Homo sapiens: one gene and its partners. The protein of the gene in region 6 purifies or fractionates together with the protein of the main gene of each other region. This does not show direct contact. Each region holds a gene or a part of one and is shown on either strand. Other genes may lie near its edges.

The links.
Region 1: the proteins of P2RX5 (region 6) and TNPO3 purify together in Homo sapiens (affinity purification with mass spectrometry; 2 studies listed by BioGRID and IntAct, with this or other methods). This does not show direct contact.
Region 2: the proteins of P2RX5 (region 6) and PBXIP1 purify together in Homo sapiens (affinity purification with mass spectrometry; 2 studies listed by BioGRID and IntAct, with this or other methods). This does not show direct contact.
Region 3: the proteins of P2RX5 (region 6) and CANX purify together in Homo sapiens (affinity purification with mass spectrometry; 2 studies listed by BioGRID and IntAct, with this or other methods). This does not show direct contact.
Region 4: the proteins of P2RX5 (region 6) and DPH1 purify together in Homo sapiens (affinity purification with mass spectrometry; 2 studies listed by BioGRID and IntAct, with this or other methods). This does not show direct contact.
Region 5: the proteins of P2RX5 (region 6) and STK17B purify together in Homo sapiens (affinity purification with mass spectrometry; 2 studies listed by BioGRID and IntAct, with this or other methods). This does not show direct contact.
Region 7: the proteins of P2RX5 (region 6) and BRAT1 purify together in Homo sapiens (affinity purification with mass spectrometry; 2 studies listed by BioGRID and IntAct, with this or other methods). This does not show direct contact.

The regions. Positions count from the first base shown.
Region 1 is NC_000007.14:129,045,112-129,048,611, reverse strand, and holds part of TNPO3 (transportin-3), read left to right. Parts: intron 1-3,500. UniProt on the Homo sapiens protein: Importin, which transports target proteins into the nucleus. Specifically mediates the nuclear import of splicing factor serine/arginine (SR) proteins, such as RBM4, SFRS1 and SFRS2, by recognizing phosphorylated SR domains.
Region 2 is NC_000001.11:154,946,100-154,949,599, reverse strand, and holds part of PBXIP1 (pre-B-cell leukemia transcription factor-interacting protein 1), read left to right. Parts: intron 1-1,233; coding exon 1,234-1,467; intron 1,468-1,594; coding exon 1,595-1,618; intron 1,619-1,887; coding exon 1,888-1,958; intron 1,959-2,051; coding exon 2,052-2,183; intron 2,184-2,796; coding exon 2,797-3,500. UniProt on the Homo sapiens protein: Regulator of pre-B-cell leukemia transcription factors (BPXs) function. Inhibits the binding of PBX1-HOX complex to DNA and blocks the transcriptional activity of E2A-PBX1.
Region 3 is NC_000005.10:179,722,967-179,726,466, forward strand, and holds part of CANX (calnexin isoform d precursor), read left to right. Parts: coding exon 1-53; intron 54-693; coding exon 694-813; intron 814-1,690; coding exon 1,691-1,817; intron 1,818-3,500. UniProt on the Homo sapiens protein: Calcium-binding protein that interacts with newly synthesized monoglucosylated glycoproteins in the endoplasmic reticulum. It may act in assisting protein assembly and/or in the retention within the ER of unassembled protein subunits.
Region 4 is NC_000017.11:2,028,911-2,032,952, forward strand, and holds the start of DPH1 (2-(3-amino-3-carboxypropyl)histidine synthase subunit 1), read left to right. Parts: upstream 1-1,242; 5' UTR 1,243-1,244; coding exon of another isoform or gene 1,245-1,259; coding exon 1,260-1,320; intron 1,321-4,042. UniProt on the Homo sapiens protein: Catalyzes the first step of diphthamide biosynthesis, a post-translational modification of histidine which occurs in elongation factor 2.
Region 5 is NC_000002.12:196,161,579-196,165,078, forward strand, and holds part of STK17B (serine/threonine-protein kinase 17B), read right to left. Parts: intron 1,850-3,500; 5' UTR 1,806-1,849; coding exon 1,684-1,805; intron 1-1,683. UniProt on the Homo sapiens protein: Phosphorylates myosin light chains. Acts as a positive regulator of apoptosis.
Region 6 is NC_000017.11:3,682,656-3,686,155, reverse strand, and holds part of P2RX5 (P2X purinoceptor 5), read left to right. Parts: intron 1-3,500.
Region 7 is NC_000007.14:2,538,525-2,542,024, reverse strand, and holds part of BRAT1 (integrator complex assembly factor BRAT1), read left to right. Parts: intron 1-188; coding exon 189-307; intron 308-540; coding exon 541-727; intron 728-972; coding exon 973-1,046; intron 1,047-1,130; coding exon of another isoform or gene 1,131-1,254; intron 1,255-2,117; coding exon of another isoform or gene 2,118-2,136; coding exon 2,137-2,239; intron 2,240-2,382; coding exon 2,383-2,481; intron 2,482-2,673; coding exon 2,674-2,846; intron 2,847-3,080; coding exon of another isoform or gene 3,081-3,260; coding exon 3,261-3,500. UniProt on the Homo sapiens protein: Component of a multiprotein complex required for the assembly of the RNA endonuclease module of the integrator complex.

The DNA of each region.
Region 1 (3,500 bases), on a different chromosome or scaffold from region 6:
TTTCATACTTGCAAATATTCAGGTACAGAAAGGGAGAGGAACTTTTTGACTCAATAAGGCTCTCTTTGTTTATTTATTTTTTGAGACAGAGTCTCACTCTGTTGCCCAGGCCGGAGTGCAGTGGCACCATCTTGGCTCACTGCAACCTCCGCCTCCTGGGTTCAAGCAATTCTCTTGCCTCAGCCTCCCAAGTAGCTGGGACTACAGGCACATGCCACCATGCCCGGCTAATTTTTGTATTTTTAGTAGAGATTGGGGTTTTGCCATGTTGGCCAGGTTTGTCTCAAACTCCTGGCCTTAAGTGATCTGGCCGCCTTGGCCTCCCAAAGTGCTGGGATTAGAGGTGTGAGCCACTGCACCTGGTCTATTTATTTAGTTTTTTGAGACAGGGTCTCACTCTGTTACCCAGGCTGTGGAGCGCAGAGGTGTGATTACTGCTCACTGCAGCCTTGCTCACCTGAGCCTGGGTTCAGGTGATCTTCCCACCTCAGCCTCTTGGACAGCTGGGACTACAGGCATGCACCACCATACCTGGCTAATGTTTTGTATTTTTTGTAGAGTCAGGGTCTTGCCATGTTGCCCAGGCTGGTCTCAAGCCCCTGGGCTCAAGCACTTCTCTCACCTCAGACTCCCAAAGTGCTAGGATTACAGACATGAGTCACTGTGCCTGGCCAAGGCTCTCTTTAAGTGGTCACTAAATGGCATTTGTAACCAAAAGTAATGTGTGTGGTGGTTTTTTTCTTTCCGGAAGATTTTGTCTACTGGAACAAAAGCGTGTTTTAACTGTAGTAATAACTATAGTGTTTTAACATCCATTTGAAATTGGTAAGGCATAGAATTTGTGTGGTTTGCTAAAAAACTACTTTCAAGAATATGTATTTGTGAAACTATTATCCTTATTCTTCTCTACCACCCCACCTAACTAATCCGAGAGTAATTGAGTATAGTTCGAATGACCTGGTGACAGTAGACGTGGTATAGAGGTATAATTTGAATATGCTTTAGCCTGTACTGTGAGTTAGCATCTTTTCTCTTTCTCTAATATTTGTATAAAACAGCCATTTTCTGAAGAATCTGTATTCATTGCTCTAAACTTCCACCAAAATTTTTGGAGATGTACAGCCATGGTTGTTTTATGTGATAGATAGATATCACTGATAACTTCAAAGTGTTCTGAAAGAGAGTATTTTGAGGCAGATCTTAAAGGAATCTTAGTAGCCTGTCCTGTATATTTAGTAGTTTCATTTGTCCACCCCTACTAACCAAAATTAGTAGAAGTTGTAGAGAGCTATTGAAGGAAAGACCATCTCTTCATAGGGCCAATTACTTAAGCGACTCAGTTATAAGTTTTTAATTTAAGTTGTAAGTAGGAGATAACTTTTACAGAGACAATCTTTGGGTTAGATATTACCTCAAAAGTTTTATAGTTCAGTATGGAAACTGAATAGGCATGCTTCAGCATGGGTGTATGCAGCTTTTTGATGGAAAGCATCAAAAGCACAAAGCAGATGAAGTAAAGTCATGCTTTGATAGACTAAGTTGGCATTGTCATGTTTGGTTTATCACATGTCCATAGGAATTTTCTTCTTAGATATCATATCAGAAAGGTCTTGGGTTGATATGGTTTGGCTATGTCCCCACCCACATCTCACCTTGTAATAATACCCCCCGATTTGTGGCAAGGTGGGGCCAGGTAGAGGTAATTGAATCATGATGGGGGGTTCCCTCATACTGTTCTTGTGGTAGTGAATAAGTCTCACAAGTTCTGATGGTTTTATAAATGTGAGTTCCCCTCCACAAGCTCTCTCTTGCCTGCCGCCATGTAAGACGTCGCTTTGCTCTTCCTTCGTCTTCCGCCATAATTGTGAAGCCTCCCCAGCTATGTGAAACTGAGTCAGTTAAACCCCTTTCCTTTATAAATTACCCAGGCTTGGGTATGTCTTTATTAGCAGTGTGAGAACACATTAATACATGGGTCATGGAATATCAGCTTCAAACTTCTTTGCTAGTACTTTTCCTTTTTGGAATTTATTGATTCTTTAGCCTGGTTATAAAACCTAGGGTTTTTGGCTTTTCTCTGGTCATTACTGATTTATCTTGAAAGTTTAGGCATTTTTTGTGTGTGCTTATGCTTGCACCTTCCAGTCAAAACATGCTTTTGAAAGGAAAGCCTTCTAGAAAATAGAAAATATTCCTATACAACTTCAGTAGATGAGTTCAGTCTAGGAATACTCTGTGCCTTGCACTGATAGAAACTGGGAGTATGTAAATAATGAAAACCAAAGATCTTTCTCCCAGAGAGTGTACCAATGTAGCTGTGTCATCCAGTGTAGTAGCCACCAGTCTAGTGTGACTATTTAAACTTAAAATTAAGTAAAAGTTAAAATCAGTTTCTTTTTTTTTTTTTTTTTTTTTTGAGACGGAGTCTCACTCTGTCACTCAGGCTGGAGTGCAGTGGTGCAATCTTGGCTCACTGCAACCTCCACCTCCCGGGTTCAAGCAATTCTGCCTCAGGCTCCCGAGTAACTGGGATTACAGGTGCATGCCACCATGCCTGGCTAATTTTTTGTATTGTTAGTGGAGATGGGGTTTCACTGTGTTAGCCAGAATGGTCTCAATCTCCTGATCTCGTGATCCACCCACCTCAGCCTCCCAGAGTGCTGGGATTACAGGCATGAGCCACTGCGCCCGGCCTAAAATCAGTTTCTTATTTGCACTTACCCACATTCCAAGTACTGTACGGTACAAATATAGAACATTTCATGTCTTTGAAGTATTGGAGTCTATGTTTGTGATTTTGTGACAGTATTTCTGTTGCCATGGTAGTCTGTTATGTGGTGGCATTTCTCCATATTTTGATTAGTTTCTTGTCTTGCCAGGCCTTGGGCCAAAGTTGATAGTTTGATTTAGGATGTAAAATTATCAGGGTACTACTATATTTTCTAATTACAATAGTTTTTCCAAAGTTTTTCAGATATTTCTTCAGCATTCTTTTACAGTGATTGATTGCACTGATGTTTATGGAGGAAATGGAAAGTAGGTTTTATAGATTTTTTTTTTTTTGTGGCAAAACATTCAAAACATAAATTTAGCATTTTAACGTTTTTTTTTTTTCTGAGACAGGGTCTTGTTCTGTTGCCCAGGTTGGAGTGCAGTGGTGCGATCATAGCTCACTGCAGCCTTAAACTCCCAGGCTCAAGCTATCTTGCCTCCTCAGCCTCCCAAGTAGCTGGGATTACAGGCATGAGCTACCGTGCCCAGTCATTTTAACCATTTTTAAGTGTGCAGTTCAGTGGTATTACATACATTGACATTGTTGTGCAACCATCACCATCATCCATCTTCAAAACTTTTTCATCTTGTAAAACTAAATCTATGCCCACTAAACAAAATAGGTGCCCATTTGCTCCCCGCCCCAATCCCTGGCAACCACCATTCTACTTTCTGTCTCTATGAATGTGACTATTCTTGGTACCTCATGTAAGTGGAATCATACAGTA
Region 2 (3,500 bases), on a different chromosome or scaffold from region 6:
GGAAACAAGACTGTGAGAGCCACACATTGGCTATCCTTAGGTGAATCTAGGAAGTGTGTGCTTATATAAAGATGTAGATGCCGAGGCTCAGGATGGAATTTGGGGATCCCTGTGTCTCATTCATGATGGAGATGGGGTGGAGGATGAAAACCAAATCCTCTGGGTGTTCCAGGCAGGTGGATCACTTGAGCTCAGGAGTTTGAGACCAGCCTGGGAAACATGGCAAAACCCCGTCTTTACAAAAAAATACACACACACACACACAAATTAGCCGGGTGTAATGATGCATGCCTATAGTCTCAGCTACTCAGGAGGCTGAGGTGGGAGGATCGCTTGAGCCTGGGAGGTGGAGGTTACAGTGAGTTGTGATCGTGCCACTGCACTCCAGCCTGGACGACAGAGCCAGACCCTGTCTCAAAAAATAAAAATAAATAAAAATAAATAAATATTAAAAAAAAAAGAAAGAAGATGCAGACCTGAACTAAGGCAGGTACAGTGTGGGTTGTGAACAGGGGTGGACTGTCAAGATGTTTAAGTGTAGAACTGTGAAACTGTCTGGATGTGAGGTGGAGAGGGAGGGCTTAGGTTAGCTAGATGGTGGAAGCAGTGCCTTCCCCTGAATTGGGGAAACACCAGAAAAGAACCAGTTTGCAGAGCAGTGTGTTGAATGTTTGGTCCCAGAGGGAGTGGCCAGCAGGCAGTCAGACATACAGGCTTGGAGCTCTGGGAGGCCAAGTGAGGAGTTACACACTAAGGACTCATTGCTGAAGGGGGGTGTCAGTGGTGTGGGTCAGAGAATTGTGACTATGTGTACAGTGAGAAGAGCAGAGAACCTGAAATGGTGCCAGGGAGACCACTGACTTTAGGATCAGGGAAGAGCCAGGGAGGGAGAATGGGAAGGAGTGGCCAGAGAGTTTGGAGGCAACCCAGGAGGGTGGTAATAGCTGCAGAAGTTTGATGCACAGCGCACACTGAGGAAGGAGGATGCTTTCAGGATGAAAATGGCTTTTATAGCTCGTAGATTGACAGCACTGGTCTCCTGCCTCCAGACTGGGCAGGGACAGTCATCAATGCCCAGGCAGAAGTGGGCAAGTGGGCAAGGTCTTCATGTGCCCCTCTCTGGGGTCAGGGCTGACGACCTCCCTCCCTGTGCCTTCCTCTGATTCCCCTCTCTCCCTGTGTCTCCCCATCTCTCCAGTCACCTCACTGCCCTGTCCCTGTCCTTTCCCCTAGCTTGGATCAGGGAGGAGGGCCGCTGCTCCAGCAGTGACGATGACACCGACGTGGACATGGAGGGTCTGCGGAGACGGCGGGGCCGGGAGGCCGGCCCACCTCAGCCCATGGTGCCCCTGGCTGTGGAGAACCAGGCTGGGGGTGAGGGTGCAGGCGGGGAGCTGGGCATCTCCCTCAACATGTGCCTCCTTGGGGCCCTGGTTCTGCTTGGCCTGGGGGTCCTCCTCTTCTCAGGTGAGTGGTACCTCTGAGGCTGGGGCTTTGGGCTTCCATGCCTGCCTGCCTTCCTGCCATGTTCTCACCTTACCTCACATCACCCCTCCCCGAGGGCCTCATCAGACTCCTCTGTCTCTGTCCTTAGGTGGCCTCTCAGAGTCTGAGACTGGTGAGTAGGGAGGAGCCTGTCTTGTGCTGGGGAGTTGTATGTGTTCTCTGGTTCTGTGGGTCAGGAGTAGGGGTGCTGGGGGCTCACATTTATTTCTCAGTTAGTGGCCTTGTCAGCTGTTCAGGGTGCCCCTTGGCCCTTTATCTCACCAAACCGCTCAGCCACAGGGTGGGTCCTGAGCAGGAGTGGTGGCTGTGTGAATGGGAAGGTGTGGGGAGAATGGGCTCTGTGTGCCTCAGGACCAGTTTCAGGGTTTCCCTTTCCCACAGGGCCCATGGAGGAAGTGGAGCGGCAGGTCCTCCCAGACCCCGAGGTGCTGGAAGCTGTGGGGGACAGGCAGGTATGTGTGAATGTCTCCAGAGGCAGGTGGGGCCTGGCTGGGGAGAACCTGGGCTGTGGGGTAGCATGGCATAACAGGCTCTTCTGCCCTCAGGATGGGCTAAGGGAACAGCTGCAGGCCCCAGTGCCTCCTGACAGTGTCCCCAGCCTGCAAAACATGGGTCTTCTGCTGGACAAGCTGGCCAAGGAGAACCAGGACATCCGGCTGCTGCAGGCCCAGCTGCAGGTGGGCACAGGCAGGAGGGGCTGGGCTAGGGTAACCCACCTAGGCCAGGCGTCTGTCCTAGCATCCTCCCCCAAAAGGAATGTTTCCTATTTACCCACACATCCTGACCCTCCCCTCTCCCACTATAGTCAGGGCGTCTTCCCAGTTCTTGGTTCACATCCCTTGTGCTAAGGTTTGGGCCAGGGCTGGCATACCTGTTCCACATGGTACATGAAACATACATGGTATCACCTGTGATTGATTGGTGTGGTCTGCCTGGAGCACTGTGTGGAAAAGGATTTAAAGAACATGCCAGGTGCCATGATCAGTTAACACTGTTCCAGGAAATAAGACTGTGAGAGCCACACATTGGCTATCCTTAGGTGAATCTAGGAAGTGTGTGCTTATATAAAGATGTAGATGCCGAGGCTCAGGATGGAATTTGGGGATCCCTGTGTCTCATTCATGATGGAGATGGGGTGGAGGATGAAAACCAAATCCTCTGGGTGTTCCAGGCTGTAAAACGGGCTCAGGCCACCTGCCCACTATAATAGAATGGAATTGGGGTAGAAGGCATTGGGGCTATCCTGACAAGAACTCTTTGTGACTTCCTTTGTCCCAAACCATATTCTAGGCCCAAAAGGAAGAGCTTCAGAGCCTGATGCACCAGCCCAAAGGGCTAGAGGAGGAGAATGCCCAGCTCCGGGGGGCTCTGCAGCAGGGCGAAGCCTTCCAGCGGGCTCTGGAGTCAGAGCTGCAGCAGCTGCGGGCCCGGCTCCAGGGGCTGGAGGCCGACTGTGTCCGGGGCCCAGATGGGGTGTGCCTCAGTGGGGGTAGAGGCCCACAGGGTGACAAGGCCATCAGGGAGCAAGGCCCCAGGGAGCAGGAGCCAGAACTCAGCTTCCTGAAGCAGAAGGAACAGCTGGAGGCTGAGGCACAGGCATTAAGGCAAGAGTTAGAGAGGCAGCGACGGCTGCTGGGGTCTGTACAGCAGGATCTGGAGAGGAGCTTGCAGGATGCCAGCCGCGGGGACCCAGCTCATGCTGGCTTGGCTGAGCTGGGCCACAGATTGGCCCAGAAACTGCAGGGCCTGGAGAACTGGGGCCAGGACCCTGGGGTCTCTGCCAATGCCTCAAAGGCCTGGCACCAGAAGTCCCACTTCCAGAATTCTAGGGAGTGGAGTGGAAAGGAAAAGTGGTGGGATGGGCAGAGAGACCGGAAGGCTGAGCACTGGAAACATAAGAAGGAAGAATCTGGCCGGGAAAGGAAGAAGAACTGGGGAGGTCAGGAGGACAGGGAGCCAGCAGGAAGGTGGAAGGAGGGCAGGCCAAGGGTGGA
Region 3 (3,500 bases), on a different chromosome or scaffold from region 6:
ATTGGGCCAATGATGGATGGGGCCTGAAGAAAGCTGCTGATGGGGCTGCTGAGGTTCGTGTTTGCTGCTTGTGCATTTGTGTCTGTTATTGTAAGGAGCTGTTATTTTGTGAAAGTCTGTGTTAAGGTTTTTTTTCTTCATTTGGCAATATTGGCATAAAAAGTATAACCATATGCCTGCAAAAGACACAATATTGGGTTTTGGGGCATGATTTCATTAGTCTAATGTAGTGGCTTTAGAGTCTGTTTGTGTTCAGGGTTTTTTTTTTATTATTTGTCTGGGTATATATTTCGAAATTTGTCATTTAGGCTATATTTTAATACACTCTTATATGTTGAATCTCGGTTTACACTACATACAGAATTTTCAAACAACTGGTCATGTGGCCGATTTAAGAATTGGAGAGCCAGGGATACTGAGATAAGAAATTCACTGGATCCTGAGGTTAAGGGAGCCTTTTGCAGGTGATGTAGAAGCCAGCTTTTGCACCTATGAGAGTGAAATCATCTTGATTATAAGGAGAGCAAGAGGATGGAGGCTTTCTCTAATTTCTTTTTTACATTTTATGAGCATTTTCTCTGAAAAAGAAGGTCCTGCGTAGTGCCATGCCATAACTGAACTGCAGAAAAACAGCACGGCCTATGTTTGGTGTCAAAAGCTGGAACTTTCAATCAGCCCTGTCTTGTTTTTCAGCCAGGCGTTGTGGGGCAGATGATCGAGGCAGCTGAAGAGCGCCCGTGGCTGTGGGTAGTCTATATTCTAACTGTAGCCCTTCCTGTGTTCCTGGTTATCCTCTTCTGCTGTTCTGGAAAGGTAGGAAGTTTTTTTTTTTAGAATCAATTTTAGAGACATCACTCTAGTGATTATTAAAAATAACTAAGATATGTTGCCTGAGGTTTTCTTTGTAGTGGCTCAGTAATGACCAAGCCATGTTTGGTGTTGACTTCAGAAACCTTACTTACTGTTCCTCAGTGGCCGTTTATTGTGCCCAGATGGGAGCAGGATTTATAGCCCCTTGGTTGCTATTATTATTTATCCTAATCTGTTACTCTCCATAGTGTTCGGCAGCAACTTTCTAAAAAAAAACAATAAACTTAGATACCAAACTAGCCACTTGGGCAATAATCAGCTTTGCCTGCTGGCATAGCTATTTCTATTCTTTGTAATTCAGTCTTTGATTCCTCATTATCCATTCTGCCTTCACCTTCCCCACTCTCAAAACAGTATGTTGGGGTACCACAGCCTTATTGTTAGTTTTTCTTGTTTAGCCTTTTTTTTTTTGCATGCTATCATAAAAAAAGAAAGTCTTATTTTGGACTCTACTTCTGCTAAATGAGGATTATGCTTCATCTGGCATTCATAGCACTTTGTAACTGGATCCCAAGTTCCTTTTCCAGCCTCAGCCTCTGCCACTATTCTGTGTATCGGTGCCTCAGTCACCTTGACTTTTTTGACCTTTATTTTCCTGCCTGGCCCTTTTGTTTTTATTGTTCTACCTTGAAACACACAAGCACATGTGCATACACACACGTACATACACGCTCTTCAGGGTAGGAATTACATCCTATTCGTTTCTGTATATCTATCCCTGTATACAGCCTGGAACAGAACTTTGCCTGTAGGCATTCAGGAATTATATAACATAATACATGAACATGTAAACAAAATTGTACTTTGGGGAACATTTCAGAAACAGACCAGTGGTATGGAGTATAAGAAAACTGATGCACCTCAACCGGATGTGAAGGAAGAGGAAGAAGAGAAGGAAGAGGAAAAGGACAAGGGAGATGAGGAGGAGGAAGGAGAAGAGAAACTTGGTAAGAAACAGAGTCCAGAAAATCTGCTTTAAGCCAAGACCCTACGATGTTGTTAAACCTTTACAGTCAAGTTAAGGATTGTTTTTAGCCAGGCGTGGTGGCTCAAGCCTGTAATCCTAGCACTTTGGGAGGTTGAAGCAGGAAAATCACTTGAGCCCAGGAGTTTAAGGCTGTAGTCAGCCAGGATAGTGCCACTGCACTCCAGCTGAGCAACAGAGTGAGACCCTGTCTCTCTCTCTCTCTCTTTTTTATTTTTTAAGACAAGGTCCCACTCTGTCACTCAGGTTGGAGTACAGTGGCACAGTCACAGTTCACTGCAGCCTTGACCTTATAGGTTCAAGTGATCCTCCTACCTCAGCACCCCTCCAAGTAGCTGGGACCACAGGCATGCGCTACCATGCTCAGCTGTTTGTTTGTTTGTTTGTTTATTGATTTATTTATTTGATATGGTCTGGCCCTGTTGCCCAGGCTGGAGTGCAGTGGTGTGATCTCGGTTCACTGCAGCCTTTGCCTCCCAGATTCAAGCGATTCTCCCACCTGGGCCTCCCAAAGTGTTGGGATTACAGGCGTGAGCCACCAGACCCAGCGAGATCCTGTCTCTTAAAAAAAAATTGTTGGCCAGGTGCGGTGGCTCACGCCTGTAATTCCAGCACTTTGGGGGGCCGAAGCAGGCAGATCACGAGGTCAGGAGGTCGAGACCATCCTGGCTAACATGGTGAAACCCCATCTCTACTAAAAATACAAAAATTAGCCGGGCATGGTGGCAGGTGCCTGTAGTCCCAGCTACTCAGGAGGCTGAGGCAGGAGAATGGCGTGAACCTGGGAAGGCAGAGCTTACAGTGAGCCGAGATTGGGCCACTGCACTCCAGCCTGGGTGACAGAGCAAGACTCTGTCTCAAAAAAAAAAAAAAAAAAAAAATTGTTGGCCAGGCATGGTGGCTCACGCCTGTAATCCCAGCACTTTGGGAGGCCGAGGTGGGTGGATCACGAGGTCAAGAGATCAAGACCATCCTGGCCAACACAGTGAAGCCCCGTCTCTACTTAAAATAAAAAAGTTAGCCAGGCATGGTGGCGGGCGCCTGTAGTCCCACCTATTCGGGAGGCTGAAGCAGGAGAATCACTTGAACCCGGAAGGCAGAGGTTGCAGTGAGCCGAGATTGCGCCACTGCACTCCAGCCTGGCGACAGAGCGAGACTGAGTCTCAAAAAAAAAAAAAAATTGTTGGCCGAGCAAGGTGGCTCACGCCTATAATCCCAGCACTTTGGGAGGCCAAGGTGGGTGGATCACCTGAGGTCAGGAGTTCGAGATCAGCCTCGCCAACATGGTGAAACCCCGTTTCACTAAAAATACAAAAATTAGCCAGGCGTGGTGGTGGGCACCTGTAATCCCGGCTACTCCGGAGGCTGAGGTAGGAGATCCACTTGAACCTGGAGGCAGAGGTTGCAGTGAGCCGAGATCATGCCATTGCACTCCAACCTGGGTGACAAGCAAAGTCGATCTCAAAAAAAATAGTGGCCGGGCGCGATGGCTCACGCCTGTAATCCCAGCACTTTGGGAGGCCACCGAGGAGATCATGAGGTCAGGAGATCGAGACCATCCTGGCTAACACGGTGAAACCCCGTCTCTACTAAAAATAAAAAAAGTTAGCCGGGCATGGTGGCAGGCGCCTGTAGTCCCAGCTAT
Region 4 (4,042 bases), 1.7 Mb from region 6:
AGGGCCTCTGGGGGAGCCCGAGGACACAGAGCTGACTTAAAGGGCCAGCTGTGATCACAGCACCACCGCAGAGAGAGGAGGAGGATGCCAGGGGGCTGGGTAGACCGTCAGACCTGGAAGACCATTGTTCCACGGGACAGACTGCTGAGGGCCAGTCCTGCAGGTACTTTGCTCTTCCACAGGTCAAAGCCGTCTCACTGGCTGTCTTCTCTTTGGGGTCTCTGGGGCTCTGGCCAGTGATCAGGAGAAAGACCAGCCCTGAGGGGCAGGGCAAAGGTTGGCCAGGGTCCAGAAGGGTTAGACATCACAGTCCTCCACTGCCCACCTTCCCAGGAAAGCACCCTCAGGCTGTGGGCCTTCCCCAGAGGGGCAGTTTCTACAGGGTCTACGCAGTGGATTCTAAAGGTGATAAAGGCTGGGTGCAGTGGCTCGCGCCTGTAATCCCAGCACTTTGGGAGGCCAAAGTGGGAGGATTGCTTGAGTCCAGAGGTTCAAGACCAGCCTGAGCAAAATAGTGAAACCTTATCTCTACTAAAAAAAAAAAAAAAAAAAAAAAAAAAAATTAGCTGAACGTACGCCTGTGGTCCCGGGTACTCAGGGGGCTGAGGCAGGAAGATGAATTGAGCCCAGAAGGTTGAGACTGCTGTGAACCATGATCGCACCACTGCACTCCAGCCTGGGCGACAGACCAAGACCCTGTCTCAAAAAAAATAATTTAAAAAGCTGATAAGGGCGATCCACAAACCTGCACCAAGACTCTCAACTTGGAGCTGGGCTGGTGGTCCCTGAGTTCTGTCCTGCCGGACAGTAGAGTCCCCCTAGGTAGGGAACGTGGCCCCACACGGCGGCCGGGTGACCGACCACTGCTTACCAGGAGGGGAGACTGGCAGGGGGGGCTCAAGGAACATCTGGTGGGTGTCCCCTTCACAAGACTCGGCCTGCAGAGTTCGTGCAGGGAGTTCGCACATAGGAGAGCACCGGTCCGGGAGTGCCAGGCTCGTGCCCGGCCGGGGAGAGGAGTGGGAGACTAAGTCGCAGGGCAAGGGCAACTGCATAGTCGGGGACCTCTAGGGAATCCTGAGTCCCGGCATTCTGGGCTGGGGTGGAGCCCACTACAGCCCCGCCCCTATCTCCTCCTTTATGGCCCCGCCCAGCGGGTATCCCCCGCCCCCGCTGGCCGATCGGCGATCGATCGCAATGTCTGCGCTCTCCGCGTTCTTCCAGCGCTGTCTTTTTAGTACCACATGCGCAGGCAGGTGATGGCGGCGCTGGTCGTATCCGGGGCAGCGGAGCAGGGCGGCCGAGACGGCCCTGGCAGAGGTGGGTGCTGGAACGCTGCGCCCTCCAGACCTCGCATCTCGGGGCGGGGCCCCCAAGTTAGGGACAGGACCAACCCCCTTTAACGGCGGCGGCGCCTTTCTCCGCTAGATCCCGCTGTTAGTCGCCTTGGGCCGCTGTCACCAGCTCGGGGTCGCTGTCAGCCGGAGCCCAGGGGTACCAGTCTTTTGCAGCTTTAGGGCACGACCGAGAGCAGCCCTTAATCCTCCAATCGGAAACTACAGCCTTGTCTTGGCGGGTAGACGGATAAAATGGACTCGACGGGGAGGGAAAGGGCCAGGCCAGATGCAGCGGGCATTTTACGAGTGCGCCCTCAGGGAATGCTTTCAGGGAAGAGGCAAAAGGTTTCATTCGCCAGGCATTAACTGAGCGCCCACCGAATGCCAGGCCTGCGCTGGGTGCAGGTACTAGAATCAGAGATCTCAGTCTACTGGGGGAATGTTAATGTAAACATATCATAGCCACGTGATAAAGGAGGAGGTGCCTACTGGTCCCTGGGACACATTGAAGGGCTAATGTTAGCAGTTCCTTACACGCCAGCGACCACTAGGGACCTGTCAGAGGAGGATCTGTAATGGGCCTAGGAAGCCTAGGCTGATTGTCCAAGGCTTTTGAAACAACTGGCCAAAAACCATAGCAGTGGTAACGTTCAAATCTGATCTCAGGGCCCCAGCCTCCGCTGGACCATCCCCACCGCCGCCCACACAGTGGGTGAAGCCTCATGTCTGGGCGGGTCCCTCCTATCATAGTGTGGGGCCCTAGCAGAAGTTGTGGCACATAGCACAGTCTCAATACATATTCGTTGAATAAGTTAATTTCTTGCCTTTTCATATCCTCAGACTCTGTGGCTCCTGAAGAGATAACGGGGTTGAACTAAGCTTAATTGTCGGGGCAGGGCATAGTGGCTTACACCTTTAGTCTGAGCACTTTGGGAGGCTAAGGAGGATTGTGTGAGCCCAGGAATTCCACACCAGTCTGGGAAACATAGGGGGACCCTGTATGCACAAAAAAATAAAAAATAGCCGTGCGTGGCCGGGCACGGTGGCTTACACCTGTAATCCCAGCACTCTGGGAGGCTGAGGCGGGCGGATTACCTGAGGTCAGGAGTTTGAGACCAGCCTGGCCAACATGGTGGAAACCCTGTCTCTACTAAAAATACAAAAATTAGCCGCGTGTGGTAGCACACGCCTGTAATCCCAGCTACTCGGGAGGCTGAGGCAGGAGAATTGCTTGAGTCCGAGAGGCTGAGGTTGCAGTGAGCCGAGATTGCACCACTGCACTCCAGCCTGGCCAACAGACAGAGTGAGACTCTGTCTCAAAAAAAAAAAAAAAAAAAAAAATTAGCCCTGCGTCTTGGCACATGCCTGTGGTCCTAGCTACTGGGGAGGCTGAGGTGGGAGGATTATCGTTTGAGCCCAGGACGTCGAGGCCGCAGTGGACCATGATTGCACCCCTGCACTCCAGCCTGGGTGATGGAGTGAGACCCTGCCTTAAAAAATAATAAGATGAATTGTTTATTCAGCTTATTATTTTTTATCCTACTTAGGAGTAGGATGAGACCAGAGTAAGAGTTGCAGTTTGCTAAGGGCTACGGTTTCCCCTTTACTCCAGGAGTTGTAATTATGTGTATACCTGTCTTTTCCCCCACTAGACTGCTGGTCTCTAAGGGACAAGGTCACTTTTCTGTCCTTACTGGTACGTCCACCACCCTGACTCAAGTGTTCTTTCCATCCTTCCTGGTTTAAGAGTAAGGAGGAGCAATGGGACAGCTAAGTCAGTTAAATGTATGATGTTTATTTCCCTTTTAAATGAGGAGAGGTAAGCGTGAAAGAACGAACAGTGTGGCCACAGTCAGTGGGGTTCTGAGTCAGGAGGGCAGTCTTTTAAGTTAGTATTCATGTTTAACGGTTTGCTTATAGACCTCATATCTAGAAGCTCAAAACTTCAAGGTGTCCTCAGGAGGTGGGAGAGGGGGGACATTCTCCCAGGCTGGCTGGGCTGGCTAGACTGACTCTTAGGTTTTCCGCAGGGCTGTTCTCTATCAGGGAGCAGTATATGGACTCAGACTCATTCTTTGCCCCTTAGCCCCTGGTGTCACCTCTGTTCTCCTGAGGAAGAAGGTGAGCCATATTCTATTCATGGGCTCAAGTCTTCGATTCCCAGTGATTTCACAACATGGAAATTATACCGGTTACCTTCTGGCTTAATGAATTGTCTCTACCTTCAGGATGAATTCAGTGAGAACGAAAGCTGGGCCAACCCCCTTGGTGTCTGGATCTGGCCCTTAAACTTGGTGGAGTTAACAGCTTAGCTGGGTCTTGTTACCAAACTCAACTTGGGTCTTCCCATCCACACAAAGCAAAAGCCAAACACTGACATGGAGATTTGCAGGGAGAGAACAAGCATTTATTGTAAGGCACCAAGCAGGGAGACTGGGCAGCTAAAGCTTAAGACCTAAACTTCCTGATGGCTTACAAGCAAAGGGTTTTTATTTTATTTATTTATTTATTTTTGAGATGGTGTCTCGCTCTGTTGCCCAGGCTGGAGTGCAGCGGCGTGATCTCGGCTCACTGCAAGCTCCGCCTCCCGGGTTCACCCCATTCTCCTGCCTTAGCTGGGACTACAGGTGCCTGCCACCAGGCCCGGCTAATTTTTTGTATTTTTAGTAGAGAGTAGTATTTCCCCGTGTTAGCCAGGATGGTCT
Region 5 (3,500 bases), on a different chromosome or scaffold from region 6:
CATGATATCGGCTCACTGCAACCTCCACCTGCCGGGTTCAAGTGATTCTTCTGCCTCAGCCTCCTGAGTAGCTGGGACTACAGGCACACGCCACCATGCCTGGCTAATTTTGTATTTTTAGTAGACACAGGGTTTCACTATGTTGGCAAGGGTGGTCTCGAACTCCTGACCTCGTGACCCACCCTCCTCGGCCTCCCAAAATGCTGGGATTACAGGCGTGAGTCACCACACCTGGCCAGATATTATAATTCTTATTTTGCAAAAGAAAGGCTGCATCCAACATCTGCAACGTGAAAAAGCCAGGACTTGCCTCTGCCCTTAAGGTAAAAGGCCACCAAGAATGAAATTACTTTTCATGATTCAGTCAACTTTTCTTCTCACATCGAGATTTTCAAAGACAAAAATCAATCACATTGTTTTGCTGCACATTTATCAACACAAATATGGACTTAGTAAACCATTTAACATACAACAAAACATTTACCTCCAGAACTAAAATCAAACTGAAAATACATGATGACTACCATCTTCCAACCCTTCATTAAGCACCTTTAATTTAAAGCTCAAAAGATGCTGAATATATAACTTAAATAACTTGGTATATCTTTTATAACTTTTCATATATTAAAATGGTAGTACAGAATGGTTTCATAATATCATGTCACTCCTTGGCCGTACAGAGTTTATACACTGGTTAAGAGAAAACAATTTGTAAAGGCTTTTTACTTATAAACCACTCATTTGTTGTGACATAGAATCAGACTATGAAATATGAATTCATTCTTTTTGTTCAACTTAGGAGAGGGGGAGAATCTCCCTATTTCTTCTTCTTCTTCTTTTTTTTTTTTTTTTAAGCCAAGCACAATACCCTAGGAATTTAAAAAAATATTTCATTTAACAAAAACTTACAGAGCACTGTACTAGGCACTTTACAAATATTAACTAACTTAATCCTCATAACAACCATATAAGACAGACACAATTATCTTCACCCCTACTTTTCAGATGAGGAAACGACAGCACTAAGAGGTACAGTAGGCAGGGCGCAGGGGCTCACACCAATTATCTCAGCACTTTGGGAGGCCACGGCCAGAGGATTGCTTGAACCCAGGAGTTGGAGACCAGCCTGGGCAACATGGAGAAACCCTGTCTCTACAAAAAACCAGCCCAGTGTGGTGGTGTGTGCCTGTAGTCCCAGCTACTTAGGAGGCTGAGGTGGCAGATCCCTTGAGCCCAGGAGACAGGAGGTTGCAGTGAGCCAAGATCATGTCACTGCACTCCAGCTTGAGCAACAGAGTGAGACCCCGCCACAAACAAAAATTAAAAAAAGAGGTACAGTTATTTAGTTGAAGTCACACACCTAGTAACTGGTGGAGTCCAAACTTGAACTCGGCAGTCCACTATGCTGAGCTGCCTCTTCCCATGCACAGCCTCATGTAACGACAGAGACCTCCTATCAGAGGCTCTGAGGCTAGGTAGGATGTATGATTTAAGTTCACTAAACCCTCCACAGATTTGATTTTCAAGTCAGTTAAGACTGGACCCTAGGTAACAGCAACAGAGATCACAACTTTCCTTCCTAATCATTGTTAAATAATGATCCCAAGTGAGTTTTATAGAATTATAAAAACACAAATCCAAAATTTGAATTTAGATGGCATACACGTCATATGGTTTTCTTACCTCCCTAGCTCTTTAGATGTAAGTATATAGAAATTATTAAAGTTTTCCATTTTTATTGGAATTTGAGGAGTTGTAGTTAGTAGGCCTGAAATACTTCGGCAATCAAATCTCCTCCTCGACATGTTAGGTGATTCCCAGGTCTGCTTCTTTAGTCACTTATTTTTACCTATGCAAAAAAAGAGAATACAGAGAAAAGATGTTATCTCAGGCAGGATGTGCATTACATTACACAGCTCCAAATATAGCTATAAAATACAACTAAAAAAAAAAAAGATTTAAAGAGCACATTCTATCCACAAGGAGGAAAAAACAAAAAGCATACACATAAACCATAATAACACTATGGCACTTGAACGAAGTTACTGACTTCATTTCAGAATAAAACTACGGTAAAAATCCTCTCAATTTAAAAAAAATAGTTATGATAAAATTATAATGCAAACAATCACTTAGTTTCATCATAAAACTCCATTCTTTAAAGTTATAGAGGTTTCAGCTGGACATGGTGGTATACGCCTATAATCCCAGCACTTTGGGAGGCTGAGGCAGGAGGATCACTTGAGGCCAGAAGTTCAAAACCAGTCCTGGCAACATAGCGAGATCCCATCTCTATGAAAAAATTTAAAAATTAACTGGGTGTAGTGGCTCGCACCTGTAGTCCCAGCTGCTTGGGAGGCTGAGGCAGGAGCATCACTTGAGCCCAGAAGTTTGAGGTTGCAGTGAGCTATGAATGTGCTACTGCAGTTCAGTTTGGGCAATAAAGCGAGATCTTATCTCAATAAATAAATAAATAAATAAATAAATAAATAAATAAAGTTATAGGTTTCACATAATAGGTAATTTAATACGACAAGATAATAATTATTCATTTTAAACTTATTTTCACATGGCTAAAGAAATTTGGTGGTAAATGCACATATTGTGAGTTATATTACTGACGTGAAGGACTACAAGAAATAGAACTTCTTCCACGGATTGGCTATGTTTCAGTACTAAACTCAGAAACTCTCAAAGGTCTTAAGAGTCCCTCCTTTGACAGGACCTAGCACAGAGCCTGCTATGTATGAAGTGCTCAATAATTTTGTTGGAAGAGTGACTAACCTATACATAAAGCTTTATTTCGAAGTTCTGTATCTGAAGCTCATATATGTATCTGGAAATTTGTGATGTTTATATGCATTCAGTGTTATCAAAACTATTATATTAATTGCATTCATAAAACAATAACAGATACTATATTTCAAGACACTTATGACTTATTGCTATGCCTACTTAATAAAATATCAATTATTATTCTTTTAGCACCCTCCTGTAGTAACCCGCTAAGCATTTGTTCCTCCTCTGACATCTTTTTTTCCTATTTTCTACTTATATGTACTGTTCTTTATCTTCTTAAATTCAAATGCCAACTATAGTCTACTTAGCCAAAAAGCAGTGTCATTAGAGTTCAGCGTTTTCAGTTTCTACATTTTCTCTTCTTGGTGTTATTCTCAAATTATGAACGCGTCACTGCAGTTCAGCCTGGGCGATAGATGGAGACCTTGTCTCAAAAAATTAAATTAAAATTATAGCTTTCACATAACTAGATAGTAAAATTGTTTTCTCTACATCTCTTAGTCTTTGGGGAAACAGCTCTAACTAGTTTTGGGGTACATCTCTAGGAGTCAAAGGGTTGTAGTGTAGCATTCTGAGAATAACCTTTAGACTGAAAGACACCTGGGTCTGAATTCCATTCATCCATCATACCAGCTATGAGACCTTAATTAAATTATTTAACTTTGCTATTGTTATGGGCTGAATTGTGTCCTCCCCCAAAT
Region 6 (3,500 bases):
GGCCCCGCTGTGCGTTCTCCTGTTCTGAGGCTGGGCGGGGGGCGGGGGACGTTGGGAGGGTCCCTGGGGGCCCCGCTGTGCGTTCTCCTGTTCTGAGGCTGGGCGGGGGGCGGGGGACGTTGGGAGGGTCCCTGGGGGCCCCGCTGTGCGTTCTCCTGTTCTCAGGCTGGGAGGGGGACGTTGGGAGGGTCCCTGGGGGCCCCGCTGTGTGTTCTCCTGTTCTCAGGCTGGGCGGGGGGCGGGGGACGTTGGGAGGGTCCCTGGGGGCCCCGCTGTGCGTTCTCCTGTTCTGAGGCTGGGCGGGGGGGCGGGGGACGTTGGGAGGGTCCCTGGGGGCCCCGCTGTGTGTTCTCCTGTTCTCAGGCTGGGCGGGGGGCGGGGGACGTTGGGAGGGTCCCTGGGGGCCCCGCTGTGCGTTCTCCTGTTCTCAGGCTGGGAGGGGGACGTTGGGAGGGTCCCTGGGGGCCCCGCTGTGCGTTCTCCTGTTCTCAGGCTGGGAGGGGGACGCTGGGAGGGTCCCTGGGGGCCCCGCTGTCCAACCTGCCTCGCTCACTGGCCTTGTCTCTATCTTCCAGGCAGGGAAGTTCAGCATCATTCCCACCATCATCAACGTGGGCTCTGGGGTGGCGCTCATGGGTGCTGGGAGTACCTCCCCTCCCTCCCCGCGTCCCACCCTCTCCCCGGCGGCCGCACTGGCAGGGAGGGGGAGGCTGCTGTTCAGGAGGACCGTGTCCCAGTGCCCCCAGAAAGAACCAGAGCTGGCAAGATCAGAATAGGCGTGGGAAAAGAGGGCTTTCTGGGATTTCACGCTCTGCCAGCTGTCCTCAGGTAGCAGTGACAGCCCGAGTCTCTTTCCAGAGCCAGGGAGGCATGTGCTGGTAGCTCTGCAGCTGTGCATGGGTTTAGGTCAGTCCCCAGCCGAGGCGTGGCTGGGATATCCCTGGGATCCCAGGTGAGTCCCTGAACTTCTAAAGTCTCTATCTCTACTTCTGCTAAAAGAGGGCAGGATTAGGCCGGGCGCAGTGACTCACACCTGTAATCCCAGTGCTTTGGGAGGGTGAGGTGGCGGATCACCTGAGGTTGTGAGTTCGAGACCAGCCTGACCAACATGGAGAAACCCTGCCTCTACTAAAAATACAAAAATTAGCCAGGTGTGGTGGCACATGCTTGTAATCCCAGCTGCTCAGGAGGCTGAGGCAGGAGAATCGCTTGAACCCGGGAGGAGGAGGTTGCGGTGAGCCCAGATCACACAACTGCACCCCAGCCTGGACAACAAGAGCAAAACTCCATCTCCAAAAAAAAAAAAAAAAAAAAAAAAAAGGGGGCAGGATTAGGCTGCAGACAGTTTCTTAGCCTGGGTGCTGCTGACTTTTTGGGTGGGAGAATTCTGTGTTGTGGTCTTACACACATCCTTGGACATGCCCTTAAACATTCCACAATGCACAGAGGGCTGTGCTGGGTGTCGTAGGAGGTTTTTGTTTGTTTTCTATTTCATATTTCACACTTTTCTGGTCGATACTATATTTTCCCAGACCCTGAGGATGTTGATTTCAGAGACAGGGTTTTTGCTCTGTTGCCCAGGCTGGAGTGCAGTGGCATGATCATGGCTCACTGCAGTCTTGAACTCCTGGGCTCAAGCGATCCTCCCACCTCAGCCTCCCCACTAGCCAGGGCTGCAGGTGCACCACCACCTGTGGCTAATTTTTAAATTTTTTGTAGAAATGGGGTCTCACTATGTTGGCCAGGCTGATCTTGAACCCCTGGGCTCAGGCAATCCTCCGGCATTGGCCTCCCCAAGTGCTGGGATTATGGGCGTGAGCCACCGCGCCCAGCCCATTGTAGGATGTTTAAGAGCATTCCCGGTTTCTACCCACTAGATGTTAGGGGCACCCTCCCCTGCAGTTGTGATGGAGCAAAATCCCAGCTGGCTGAGAACCACCCGACTGAAAGGCTGAGAGGCAGGGAAGGCAGCCCTGTGACTCTTCCTTAGAGGTGGCCCTTCAGTGGGGCCGGGAGCGGCTCACAGGGGAGGAGACACAGGGACTGAGGGCAGGGAAAGGCGTCCTGAGTCTACACTGCCCCGTGGTCCTTCTGGAGTTTTTGAGAGCCATGGGAGTGGTCAGTGCCCATCCCGGCAGGTCCCTTTCCCAGGTTTCTGGCAGCCTCTTCCCTCATTCCTCTCCCTGTGCACACAAGACAGCCCCACTGGAGGAGTCCATTGGGACCCAGGGGTGACTTTTGTTAAAACCTGGAAAATTGTGTCCCATACCAGGACCACGTTCCTGGGAGGGGGTCAAGAAAAGTGAGCTCCACATGGATCCCTACCTGCAGACAGTCACTGGGAGGGTCCTGGATGTTTGCGCCTGTTACTTTCTTACAGAAGGCCCACCTTCAGCTATCACTTTTCTTTTTTTTTTTTTTTTTTTGAGACGGAGTCTCACTCTGTCGCCCAGGCTGGAGTGCAATGGCATGATCTTGGCTCACTGCAGCCTCTGCCTCCCAGGCTCAAGCAATTCTTCTGCCTCAGCCTCCTGAGTAGCTGGGATTACAGGCGTGCGCCACCGCGCCCGGTTAATTTTCGTATTTTTGTAGAGACAGGGTTTCACCATGTTGGCCAGGCTGGTCTCCAACTCCTGACCTCAGGTGATCCGCCCACCTCGGCCTCCCAGTGCTGGGATCACAGGCGTGAGCCACTGCGCCCAGCCCATTCATCACTTTCTTGTGATGTGGGTAAAATCAGAGCACCCTCTGGGGACAGACCTGTGAACTGGAAGTAATGGCGCAGGAAGAGGTGGTGGTCAAGGTTAGGTTTGGGGTTGGTCTCTGGGGAGCAGCGAATTGGTAAGCAACATTTTTGGCATCTAGGGGATGGATGTGCAGCACCCAGGGTCAGGGGACCAAGATTCCTTGTTGGCCCCTCCACCAACCCTTCCCACCTCCACTCTCCTCTATCATTCAGGCCCCAACCCTGCCCTGTGCTGTGGGTGGAGTCTCCCTCTGCTGGAGGAGAGGGGCAATTGCATCGCTCTGGTCCGTAGGGCACGTTTTGGGTGTGAGGGGCTGAGCTGGGGTCGTCCACCTCATCATCTTCCTTTTTTGTTTGTTTTTGCTTTTGTTTTTGTCTCTTTTGAGATGGAGTTTTGCTCTTGTTGCCCAGGCTGGAGTGCAGTGGTGCGATCTTGGCTCACTGCAACCTCCACCTCCCGAGTTCAGGCGATTTTCCTGCCTCAGCGTCCTGAGTAGCTGGGATTACAGACACCCGCCACCACGCCCAGCTAATTTTTGTATTTTTTAGTAGAGACAGGGTTTCACCATGTTGGCCAGGCTGGTCTCGAACTCCTGGCCTCAGGTGATCCGCCTGACTCGGCTTCCCAAAGTGCTGGGATTACAGGCGTGAGCCACTGCACCTGGCACCCATCATCTTTCTTTGACTAGCACCATAGCGTCCTTGTTGGTTAGAACCCTTCCAACCTATCTCACACTGACTACCACAGGGATCT
Region 7 (3,500 bases), on a different chromosome or scaffold from region 6:
CCACTTTAATCACACCCAGGCCTCCCTCCAAGAGCAAAGGGGACCGGGGACATGGCCATCTCCCCTGGTGAGCTGCTGCTCTGCACCTAGGTCCTGGCCTGTGCTGTGGGTGGTGACCGTGGGGTGGCTGGTGACCGTGGGGAGGCTGAAGTGCTCTCTAAGGGAGCTCTTCCTGGCTTGGCCCCCAGGCTTGCTGGACGGGACGGCAGACGATGCCACGACGGTGGACACACTCCTGGCCTCCAAGTCGTCCTGCGCCGGCCTCCTGTGCCGCACCCTGGCTCACCTGGAGGAGCTGCAGCCGCTGGTAGGTGCGGCCCGGTCCTCATGCAGCCCAGCAGCATCCACGCTGGCGGTGGGACCGCAACGTAGGCTGACGCCCCCCACCCCTTGCTGCCCCAGCACCCTTGCATCCACGCCAGCAGTGGGACCACAACCTTGGCTGATGTCCCCCGCCCCACATGCCTCGAAGTCCCAGCACCCCTGCATCCACGCCGGCAGTGGGACCGCAACCTTGGCTGACGGCCCTCTTCCTCGCAGCCCCAGCGCCCTTCACCGTGGCCCCAGGCGTCTCTACTGGGGGCTACAGTGACTGTCCTGCGGCTCTGTGACGGCTCGGCTGCCCCTGCCTCCAGTGTGGGGGGCCACCTCTGTGGGACCCTGGCGGGCTGCGTCCGGGTCCAGCGAGCAGCCCTCGACTTCCTGGGGACGCTGTCACAGGGGACAGGTGAGTGTGTTCTGTACGGCTTTGGCGTGGGGCTATCCCTGTGCCCCCACTCTCCTTTCTGCTCGGAGGCACCCGGGAACTGCTGTCCCTCTCTGTTTCTTCTCTGGGGTGGGGGCTGAGGGGTGCAGGGGCCGTGCAGGAGGTTTCAGCTGGCGGATGAGGCCTTGTTCTGCTCCTTCCCAGAGTTGATGGGGAGGGTCCTAGGGTGGGGGTGGGGGTGGTTTATCCACTCACCTCTGTCTCAGGCCCCCAGGAGCTGGTGACGCAGGCGCTTGCTGTCCTCCTGGAGTGCCTCGAGAGCCCCGGCTCCAGCCCCACGGTACGGTGGTGGGGATAGAGAGCGAGGAGAGGAGGGAGGCAGAGGCAGTGGGACCCACCCCTGACTCCACCCCGTCCCGTGCAGGCCTCTGCGGATGGGGCCTTCACACAGGGCCACAGAGCTGCTGCTCAGAGAGCTTCACGATGCAGGTGGCTGCATGGGGCGGGCCCAGGGCCTCTTGTTGGTGAAGATACATCAGCACGCAGGGGTGTGTGGGGCCGTGGGGAGCAGGGGCACTGGTCAGGCGGCCTGCGGGGAATTCTGGACAAGGGAAATGAGGTGGCACCAAGACGGCCCTGGGCGTGGGCTTTGGGTTCTCCTAAGCGCCATTTGTGAATGTGCCTACTCCACAGCCCCTCACGGAGCTGGGCCCTGGCAGGTACAGACCTTGTGCCACCTGCCGCTGAGCAGACAGCAGACAACTTTGGAGGAAGGGCCCAGGGCTTCTTGGGATCCTAAGGAAAAGGTGCCCTGCGTAATTGGTCATGTTTTGATGTAGAAATCCCGTTGCCTGGGTTGTGGGTCTTCTGGTGAGGGCTGCCACCACCTCCTCCTGCTCACAGTCTGGGAAGCCGGTTCTGCAGCATATTCTGCCCTATTAAAATCAGCCCAGGAGGGGCGTGGGGCTCACAGCTGTGATTACTGTGCGTTGGGGGGCCGAGGTGGGGGGATCAATGGAGCCCAGGACTTTTGAGGCCAGCCTGGGCAACATAGCAAGATCCCATCTCTACAAAAAAATAGAAAAATTAGCCCCAGGAGTATAGCTCAGGGGTAGAGCATTTGACTGCAAAAATTAGCCAGGCGTGGTGATGTGTGCCTCTAGCCCCAGCTACTCATGAGGCTGAGGCAGGAGGACTGTTTGAGCCTGGGAGGTGGAGGCTGCAGTGAACTGTGATTGCAGTCCAGCCTGGATGACACATTGAGACCCTGTCTCTAAAAAAGAAGGAAGCCCAGCGTTCCCTTCTCTCTCCACTTCCTGTCCCCATTGCTGTCCCTGGAGTACGGGCAGCACAGGTGAAGGCGAGGGGGACAGACAGACAGCCTGCCCCTCCGTCTCCCGTGGCCCTGCAGCCCACCCTATCTGCTCCAGGTTCTGAAGAAGGCCTTCCAGGCCACGCTCAGGTGGCTCCTGAGCTCACCCAAGACCCCCGGCTGCTCTGATCTCGGCCCCCTCATCCCGCAGTTCCTCAGAGGTAACGCAGCCCCTTGCAGGGGTGAACGGAGCTGGAGTCGCAGGGGTGGAGGCAGCAGGGGCTGGGTGGAATGGCTCAGCTGGCTCTGAGGGCAGGGTGAGCCTGGCCCCAAGGTCACCCTGACCTGTCCCTTCCCACCCTAGAGCTGTTCCCTGTGCTGCAGAAACGCCTGTGCCACCCCTGCTGGGAGGTGAGGGACTCCGCCCTCGAGTTCCTGACCCAGCTGAGCAGGCACTGGGGAGGTGAGTGCTGGCAGGTGGAGGGGCTGCCTTCCCCGCCTGTGGGGGGCTCACTGAGCCAGGGTGCACCAGCAGCCTCTTGCTGGCTCTAGAAACTTGGGCCATGTCGGCTGCCCACAAGGGGATGGAGGCAGAGGCCGAGGCGACAAGGCTCGGCCCTCAGTCACAGCTGCATGTGGCCGTTTCGACCCCCAGGACAGGCTGACTTCAGATGCGCACTCTTGGCTTCAGAGGTGCCTCAGCTGGCCCTGCAGCTCCTCCAGGACCCTGAGAGTTATGTCCGAGCGAGTGCAGTGACCGCCATGGGGCAGCTGTCCAGCCAGGGCCTGCACGCCCCCACCAGCCCTGAGCATGCAGAGGCCCGGCAGGTAGGAGGTGGCAGGTTCCTCAGCCAGCAACTCCCGCCTGGCCATCGTGTGTGCTCGTTTGCTTGCGGGTGGTCGAGCGGCCAGCATGCAGCGTGGGAGCAGCTGCTGCTGTGGGCAGCGCCTGCAGCAGTGACTGCCGAGGCCCTGGGGCTGTGCTGGGTGTGGGACCTGTGCGCTTCGCCTTCTGTCTCCCCAGCACCCCTCCACTTAGACATGGTTACCTCCATTTGACAGATGGGTAAACTGAGGATTGGAGGGCCGTGTGCTCACTGCGCAGCATGGGAAGGTGTCAGAGCGGGCTGTGGCCCTAGACTGCATGTCCGGGGCCAGCCCCCATCATGTACCGGAGTCCTGTTGCGGGAGCCTCGCTCCTGCCACCCCACCAACCATCCGCACTTGCTCCCTGTCCCCCAGAGCCTGTTCCTGGAGCTCCTGCACATCCTCTCCGTAGACTCGGAGGGCTTCCCACGGCGGGCGGTCATGCAAGTCTTCACTGAGTGGCTGCGGGACGGCCACGCCGACGCGGCCCAGGACACGGAGCAGTTCGTGGCCACTGTGCTGCAGGCGGCGAGCCGAGACCTGGACTGGGAGGTCCGCGCCCAGGGCCTGGAGCTGGCCCTCGTGTTCCTGGGCCAGACTTTGGGGCCGCCGCGT